Regions from separate parts of the Homo sapiens genome. Here regions 1 and 2 are each linked to region 3. Evidence: fine-mapped QTL for protein levels in blood plasma. A gene starts in region 3. Each other region holds a variant in brackets. All regions are shown on one strand. Distances are between the middles of the regions.

What was found. A credible set is the group of variants that fine-mapping cannot tell apart. PIP is the posterior inclusion probability: the model's chance that the variant is causal. The UK Biobank Pharma Proteomics Project read protein levels with antibody pairs (Olink). The fine-mapping took linkage between variants from a reference panel, not from the people measured, so its PIPs are less certain.
Region 1: its variant is the best candidate, but not a certain one, in a credible set for the plasma level of the SNED1 protein (UK Biobank, PIP 0.63).
Region 2: its variant is the best candidate, but not a certain one, in a credible set for the plasma level of the SNED1 protein (UK Biobank, PIP 0.65).

The regions. Positions count from the first base shown.
Region 1 is chr2:241,034,082-241,036,811 of GRCh38, reverse strand. It overlaps SNED1 (sushi, nidogen and EGF like domains 1), which reads right to left. Exons shown (of 32, transcript NM_001080437.3): 4 at 2,082-2,244; 5 at 1-22. The region is part of intron 1 of SNED1-AS1 (SNED1 antisense RNA 1); the gene reads left to right. Among named protein-coding and RNA genes, the nearest start is that of SNED1-AS1, 29 kb to the left of the region's middle. RefSeq lists enhancers at 1-826, 827-1,768, 1,769-2,712. The variant C/T (reference allele first, on the strand shown) is at 1,940.
Region 2 is chr2:240,905,749-240,908,497 of GRCh38, reverse strand. CROCC2 (ciliary rootlet coiled-coil, rootletin family member 2) reads right to left here and starts at 2,162. Exons shown (of 32, transcript NM_001351305.2): 1 at 1,907-2,162. The coding sequence starts at 1,984. The variant T/C (reference allele first, on the strand shown) is at 1,342.
Region 3 is chr2:240,996,974-240,999,722 of GRCh38, reverse strand. SNED1 (sushi, nidogen and EGF like domains 1) reads right to left here and starts at 1,105. Exons shown (of 32, transcript NM_001080437.3): 1 at 673-1,105. The coding sequence starts at 885. RefSeq lists a silencer at 1,054-1,473.

The DNA.
Region 1 (2,730 bases), 37 kb before region 3:
CGCAGGGCCAGGCACACGGACGCTGCAGACATAGGGAGGGGCTGGAGCCTCAGCCGCTGCCTCCGGACTCGGCAGGAGAGCCACTCCCATCCGCATCTCCCTTCCCTCCCCTGACCCAAAAGGTCGGCCTCTGGGTGCCCGGGTGACCGCAGCAAAGCAGCCAGGTTTCAGGTTTCACTTTAGGTCGGAGCAGGGGAGCAGGGGAGCAGGGGCGGTGCTGTTGGCGTGGCCTCTGGGGAGGTGGCTTCGTGTGGGGCGGACTCCCTGAAGCGACTCACACCAGCACCCCGTCCCCTCCATCCCTCTCAGCGCTGCCGTGGACAGGTCTAAAAACTGGCACACTCCGCCTCCCCTCCAGGGTTCCTGGCGTGGAAAACCCGAGGCTGGCACTCAGCCGTCATGTCAGCGTTTCTGGGACAAGGCGGGCCACGCAGGGGGTGTGGCTGGGGGCTGCAGGAGGGCTGTGTCCCTCGGATGCTGGGCGGCCGCTCTGGGCTCCCCGCCCCGTGAGCCCGGACTCCCTAAGCTCAGATGCAAGCGGGGGCCTGTTCGTGCCCCAGTGTGTGGGTAGCTCGGGCTCCTCGGGCCTCCTTCGTCGCGGCACCACCTGCAGCCCTCAGATGGGTCTTCCCGCCCTGCGACTGCATCTTTCCTCTTCCCATGAGCGCGCGGTGCTCTCCCCACCCCGTGGCGCGCCTCTACTCCCCAACCCCCACCCCGTGATGCGCCTCCACCCCCCACCCCCCACCCTGTGACGCACCTCCACCCCCCACCCACCCCGTGACGCACCTCCACCCCCCACTCCCCTCCCCGTGACGCGCCTCCGCCCCCCACCCCTACTACGCCCCACCTCCAACCCCGTGGCACACCTGCACCCCCCACCCCTCCACCCCGTGGCACGCCTGCACCCCCCACCCCATGGCACGCCCCCACCTCCCACACCCTCTACCCCTCACTCCCAACCCTGTGGCGCGCCTGCACCCCCCATCCCCACACCATCTACCCCTCATCCCCAACCCTGTGGCGCACCTGCATACCCCATCCCCCACCCCCACACTCTCTACCCCTCATCCCCCACCCCATGGCGCGCCTGCACCCCGCCTCCGCCCCGACAGTGGTGCGCGCGCATCTGCTACCCCTGTCGTGTTCTCTGGGGACTCAGTGTTGCGGAGATGCGGCCCCTCTCCCCTCTCGTAGCCTAGATGCTCGCGGCTGGGAGGCGAGTCTGGGGCAGGTCCCGGTGCGAGCCTCACTGCGGCCCCAGGCTTGGCAGGGCTTGTGATGCGCCGCCCTCAGTGGAGCGGATCAGTCGCTTGCCCTCGCCCCAAGTGTAAGCAGTGATTTCTGAAGGCTCCTTGGCTCCCAAGGCCGCACAGCAGCAGGGCTAAGGCTACCATCTATGGCTCTGCTGCCGCCCTGGCTGTTCCCACAAACCACGTGCCCACCCCTGGGAGGGACACCCACCCCGTCCGTTTGTGCACTGTGGGCTGGAAGGACCCCTGGAACTCCCCTGTAGACGTGATGCTTGGGTTTGTCAAGCAGTCACCAAATCCCACCAAGCAGCAAGCCCGCTGGCAAAAATGAGGACCTGGGTGGTAAGAGGACCTGCCTCATGGGTGGCCCTGAGGGTCAGAGACCACATGCTGCTCCTCCCCCAGCCCAGGCAGGAGGCTGGGTGGGAATAAGGGGAGAGTAGGGACCACATGGTCCCAGGGAGAGGTGTCCCTGGGCTCCTCCTCCCCTGAGGACCCAGAACTCTTTACCCCCGAAACCCGCAGTCTCCAGAGGGTTCCCTCCAACCCACAGCAGTGTGTGTGCGGGATCTTCTCTAGGGCACAGTCTCCAGAGGGTTCCCTCCAACCCAGAGCAGTGTGTGTGTGGGGTCTTCTCTAGGGGAAGCTGAGGCTGCAGGACCAGCCAGGCTTTCCTTAGTTTCACA[C/T]GCCTGAGGTGGGCTGGGCTGGACACCCAAGTGCTCCTGCTCTCCCCGTCAGCATCCAGCCCCCTTCGTCTCCACCTCTCCTCTGCCATCAACCCCCTTCCTCAGCCCGCTCCCACCCCAAGCTGCTCCTCTGTCCTCTTACTTGTATGGCCGCAGCCCCCCACGCGCACCTGGGCATCATCGATTCTGAACGCCCAGCGCCCGGGCACACCCACGTTGGTGGTGGTCTCCACCTCGGCCATGTCTGCTGTGCGCGAGCCGGGGATACTGAAGTAACGCTGCCCATCGCCTGCGTTGAAGCCAGCCTGGGGGTGGGGTGGGGGCAGAGTGAGGGAGGCCAGTTCCCCAGGTCTACAGAGGTGGGGGTTACCCTGCCCCCACCATGTTCCTGCCAGGGTCGGCAACCTCCCAGCCAGGTCCTGACCTCAGCCAACCGTTCCTGGGAGCCAAGGAGAGGGCTGGCCCTGGCTCCCCAGCCCAGTCCTCCGGCAGCTCACCTCTGGGCTCTTGGGCCTCCCCTGGGGCCAGGGGCAAGTATGAACCCAAGAGAAAGCAGGTGGCCAGGAGGTGAGTGGGGGTGCGCACAGCCCAAAGGCACTCTCGGGCCTGGGGAGCACTGACCCTGTGGCCATTGTCCTGTTTCATTCCCTCCACACCCGGGGTTTCCTGCCGGCTGTGGTCCCTTGTGTCACTGGCTAGGCCAGACTGCAGGGCACAAGGAGCAGAGGACATTTCTGTTGCTGTTGCAGCTGTTAAAGGGGACTGCAGGGGCAGGGCGGGGCAGGTCAGGG
Region 2 (2,749 bases), 91 kb after region 3:
ACCCCAGGTGGAGGAGGTAGAGCTCACCCCAGGTGGAGGAGGTAGAGGTCACCCGAGGTGGAGGAGGTAGAGGTCACCCGAGGTGGAGGAGGTAGAGCTCACCCCAGGTGGAGGAGGTAGAGCTCACCCCAGGTGGAGGAGGTAGAGCTCACCCCAGGTGGAGGAGGTAGAGCTCACCCCAGGTGGAGGAGGTAGAGGTCACCCGAGGTGGAGGAGGTAGAGCTCACCCCAGGTGGAGGAGGTAGAGGTCACCCGAGGTGGAGGAGGTAGAGGTCACCCCAGGTGGAGGAGGTAGAGCTCACCCCAGGTGGAGGAGGTAGAGCTCACCCCAGGTGGAGGAGGTAGAGGTCACCCGAGGTGGAGGAGGTAGAGCTCACCCCAGGTGGAGGAGGTAGAGCTCACGCCAGGTGGAGGAGGTAGAGCTCACCCCAGGTGGAGGAGGTAGAGGTCACCTGAGGTGGAGGAGGTAGAGCTCACCCCAGGTGGAGGAGGTAGAGCTCACCCCAGGTGGAGGAGGTAGAGGTCACCCGAGGTGGAGGAGGTAGAGGTCACCCGAGGTGGAGGAGGTAGAGCTCACCCCAGGTGGAGGAGGTAGAGCTCACCCCAGGTGGAGGAGGTAGAGCTCACCCCAGGTGGAGGAGGTAGAGCTCACCCCAGGTGGAGGAGGTAGAGGTCACCCGAGGTGGAGGAGGTAGAGCTCACCCCAGGTGGAGGAGGTAGAGCTCACGCCAGGTGGAGGAGGTAGAGGTCACCCGAGGTGGAGGAGGTAGAGCTCACCCCAGGTGGAGGAGGTAGAGCTCACCCCACGGCACCTCTTTGTCTTGTTGCATCGCCTGATTCAAATATCCTGCCCTTAGTCCTCATGCAGCCCTGTGTGTGAGCAAACCCTGCATCTACCCTGTCACTCGGTCACCTGCACCAGCTGTGGCCATTTCTCTTTTCAGGTGATCTGTATTGTTTGGATAGGGCCATGTCAGCCTGCCGTGGCATAGTTTTGAGATGCTAAGAGCTGGGTTAACAAGCAACCATGAGTAAGCCAGTTCGTCAGGGGTTCCCTGGGGTCCCGAGGGGTCCGTTGGAGGTGGGGCCGCCTGGCTGTGGTGGTCAGCAGCAGGTGACGGCAGTGCAGGGAGGAGGGATATCCGAGGTGGGACCGCAGGCTGGGTCCTAGGTGGGCTCTGGGAAGTAGGGAGGCAAGGGGAGAGGGACACGGGACAATTCCCAGCCACTGTTGTCACACACCAGGTGCTACGAAGACAGAACCAGAACATCTGGAAGCCACAGAATAGACACTAGGGCTGAGCCACAGCCTCCCACAAATGTGCAGCGATGGAAACACTG[T/C]CCCCCGAGAGGCCCTGCTGGCCCCACACTTGGCCATGGGAGGGCAGTGAACGAGGTCCCAGAATGTCAGCACCAAGGGCTGCCTGCCCATCCCCACCCCAGTGCGCAGCCTGCAAACCCGTGGCTGCCAGGGACGCCAGTCACCTGAACGTCCACAGCCAGCAGCGGCCCCGGGCTCTCTCTCCACCCTGCAAACCTGTGGCTGCCAGGGACGCCGGCCACCTGAGCATCCACAGCCAGCAGCGGCCCCGGGCTCTCTCTCCACCCCGCAAACCTGTGGCTGCAAGGGACACCGGCCACCTGAATGTCTATAGCCAGCAGCGGCCCTGGGCCCTCTCTCCCCAGGCTCTCTCTCCTGGCTGAAGGCTGCCTGTGTGTGCATGCAGGCGCGCCTGCTTGCATCCGTGACTGGCTGCACGCTCAAGGCAAACACGTGAGCAAGTGGAAAGTGCCCCGGGAGCCAGGAAGGTGCCTCCTGGCCATCCCCTCTCTTTGCCGCGTCCCTTCCAAAGTGTCCTGGCAACCTGCTCTCAGGAGGGTGCAGGGAAGTGACCACCCCACTGACCTGGATCACGGTGTCCAGCCCCAGTAGGGGCTGTTGGGAGGCGTCCCCATTGCCAGGCTCACTGGAGGCAGAGCTCATTGCAGCCCAGAGCGCAGGACCCCAGAGAAGTCTGGGCTTTGCTACCTGGCAGTTCTCCTCCAACTGGCCAGGGTCTTCCTTGGTCCACGGGCCCCACACCTGTGTGGCACCTGGCTCTGCAGTCTTGTGTCCCGAGCCTGGGCACCCAGTTGCTCTTGCCCTGTGGGTAAGACAGTATGGCCAGCTGAGCCCGTAGGCATTGCTGTGGCAACCGGGACGCTGAGAGCTGGGTTTCCCTGGAAACAGGAGTGCAGGACCCTGTTGCTGTGGGGACAAAGGAACGCTGTTGGCTGGAAGCAGTTTTGCCTGGAGACCTGGAGACGCCCTGGGTAAAACTGTCTACCTGAGCAACGGCACCTGGGAGGGGCTGGCCTTTCCCCCAGACACCCCCTCCCGCATTCGCTCCAGGGGGAGCCGTGTGCTTGCTGGACACACGGTGGGCAGAGGCAGCATGCAGAGCACTGGTCTTCCTTCATCTGGACTCATAAACTATGACTTTTGAAAAACATTTGTCAAAGAACGTAGTGGTCGTCGCAGGTGGTGGACTGAGACCTGGAGAGGGACGCTGCCTGCCTGAGGGGCAAAGGAATCTTGTCTTCCTGGCCTTGCACCTGTGAGTCCTTCTGGAGTCTGACTCCCGCTAGAGCCCTTCAGAGTCACCTGCCCATGGGTCCACCCTTGCCCTGGGAACCTGCACTGTTTCCCACCCTGTGGAATCGGAAAGGACCACCAGCCACCCTGTCCGAAGGGGAGAAGTCCCTGGTC
Region 3 (2,749 bases):
CTGAGCTGAGCCTGCTGTCATGAGTCCCTGGCCCCAGGAGTCCCACTGGGAGTCCTGTTTGGAGAGTCTGAGCCTGAGCGGCCAGCCCCCAGACTGCGGAGAGGACGGCAGGGAGGGGCAAGCCTGTTGCTAGCCCGCCTAGGAGGGTCAGCGAAGAAGCAGGCCCTGCCCTGAGCGCCTGGGCAAGGGGTCCAGCCTCCTGGCTCTGGGCCGCACTGGCGTCCACGGGGGGCGGGGCTGAAATGGCCCAAGGAGGGGCTGCAACCTTCGCAGGCCCGGCGCCCCACTTGGGAAACTGAGGCCCGGGAAGCCCGTGCCCACGGCCACATTGCCATGTGTGAAAACCAGGGCAGTACCAGGACCCCTGCTCTCCCCTGGGAATCAGGCGCCGGGAAGACGCGCTCGGCAGGTCTGGCAGGGGCCGGGGCGCCGCGCTCCACTCGCCCCCGCCTCGGTGCCCGGCGGCTGCCGCCCCCGCCCCGCCCGCGCGCCTCTCCCGCGGGCCGCTGTCCGGCCTTGGCCGCCGAGGAGGAAGCGCTGTCCTCATTCCACCTCGGGCCGCCCCGGTGCCAAGTGGCTGGCGGCGGCGGCGGGAGTCCGGGCCCGGCGGGCAGCGGCCGGGGCGCAGCTCCCTCCCCTCCCGGGCGCCCCGCGAGCCCGGGGGTTACTCACGTAGAGTCCGGAGTGCTCGGCACCGAAGAACGGGAAGGGCACCGAGAGCGGCCGCAGCCCCGAGCCGCCGTCGTCCTGCTTGGGGGTGACGGCGTCGCCGCGCTCGGCGCCGAACGGGTAGAAGTCGGCAAGGGCCACCGCGCCGCGCACCCCGCGCGCCCCAAGCCCCAGGGCCGCGGCCACCAGCAGCGCCCAGGCGACGCCGTGCCGCATCGCGGAGGTGTGCGGGCGGGACGGGGCGCTGGCGGAGCAGGGCGCTGGGGGACTAGGCTGCGCGCGGGGGTGGCCGGCAGGGCCAGGCGGGGTGCGGGGAGCGCGGGCGCGCCCGCTGGCCGCGCCGTCGGGGGCTCCGCGTCCCGCGCCCGTTCGGCCGGGCCGCGCTCTCGCCGCAGCTCCGCAGAGGAAAGCGCCGGGCGGGACCGCGTTCGGGGCCAGCCCCGCCCCTGGGGCCACGATTTAAATATCCAGCCCGGCGGTCACTCGGGGGGGCGGGGCCATGCAAATCGGGCGTCTCTTAAAGCGCCAGGCCCCGTGGGAGGGCGCGGGCGCGCGGGGAGCTCAGTCCCCTGGCGTGGGCACAGGCAAGGTGAGGGCTCTGCGGGCGCGCGCCCTGTGGTGGGGCCATGCTCCGCCCTGGGTCCCTACCCTGGTGGAGGCGCCTGGGCCCTCAGTGCCGTCCTGGGACAGACCTGTGTCCCTAAGGCCTGAGACGCTGGGCCCGCCCTGAAGGCGTGTCATCACGCGGGGGGCGGGAGGGGACCCTGGCCAGGCAGTGCCTGAATGAACCCGTTCCGTGCTGCCCCCTTCCCAGCCCTGAGCATGGGGACGCCAGGCTTCCAGCCACAGGGGCAGACTAACCCCGGAGCCCACTCCCTGCCTGGGTCTGTGTGAGGAAGAGCCCGGGCCGGAGACTAGGAGGCATGGAACAAAGTGTTTGCATCTGCGTGGCCGCATCAGGAGAAATTCCTGGGAGGCTCGGGACCTCGGGGCGACCCCTGGGTAAAGCAAACCCTCCGTGGGGAAGACTGACCCACTCAGGCCCTGGGGGCAAGTGCGTGCATGACACCGGCCTTGGCAGGTGGGGGCAGGACTCTGAGTCCCAGTATTTGAATTCAGGGTCCCCACCCTGTGGCCTGCCAGCCCTGCCCCCTGTCTCTTGGGCTGCTGGCCTGGGCTGCCTGTCTGTCCTTCCTCAGGGCCTCAGCCGGGACCACCTCTATGTCCCCAGGCCCATGGCAGGGTCTGATTCCTGGAACTCACCCGGCCCACCGTGGTCTCTTCTCTTAGATCCTGGTGTTGGGTGGTGTTGGCTGCGTGCCACACTGGGGCCCCCAAAGATAAGAGTGCACCCCTCGAAGACAAGCAGGAAAGGCCGGGCTGATGGTAACTGCATCTACCACTGAGGTGCTGGGTGGTTTTTTGTTTGTCTTTGCGTTTGTATCTTCTGAAATATCTCAAGTGAGCACGTGTTGTTTTTCAGTGAGAGCCAGGCACAGTCAATGTTATTTTTAAGAAGCAGCGGAGGGTTCTCTGCGTGTGACTGGGTGTTGCCGGTTCTCACAGATCCTGCACTTGGTGTTTTCACTCAGAGGTTCATGACCCTTTAGACTTGGTGTCAGGGCCGGGTGCAGAATTGTTAAGGAGGAGCTGACCCTGCACTGGCACCTCCTGAAAGCTTGCCCCTGGCGCCTCTCCCACCCTGCATGGGGTGGCAATTCTGTTTGCAGAGAGGCAAACTGGGCCTGGGAGGGGAAGGGCTCTGTCCCGCAGTTAGCCCTTAGGTCACCGTCCCAGCTTTCAGAGCTCCAGGACAGCAGCACAGCCATGGTTCCAGGGCCAGAAAGGTCAAGGCCTCCTGTCTTTGGAGGGAGGCACCAGAGAGGGCGTGGAACTGTAGAATCCCTACTTGAGGCCGGCTCTCGGTGAGAGCCTGGCAAGGAGAGACATGTCTCCACGCACATGCACACACGTCCACGCACACATGCATACTTATTCACATGCACGGAGGCAGCATATGCCCATACGTGGGGCCTCAAGAACATGCTTTAACCCCTTCCTCAGCCCAGCCCTGGCCTCC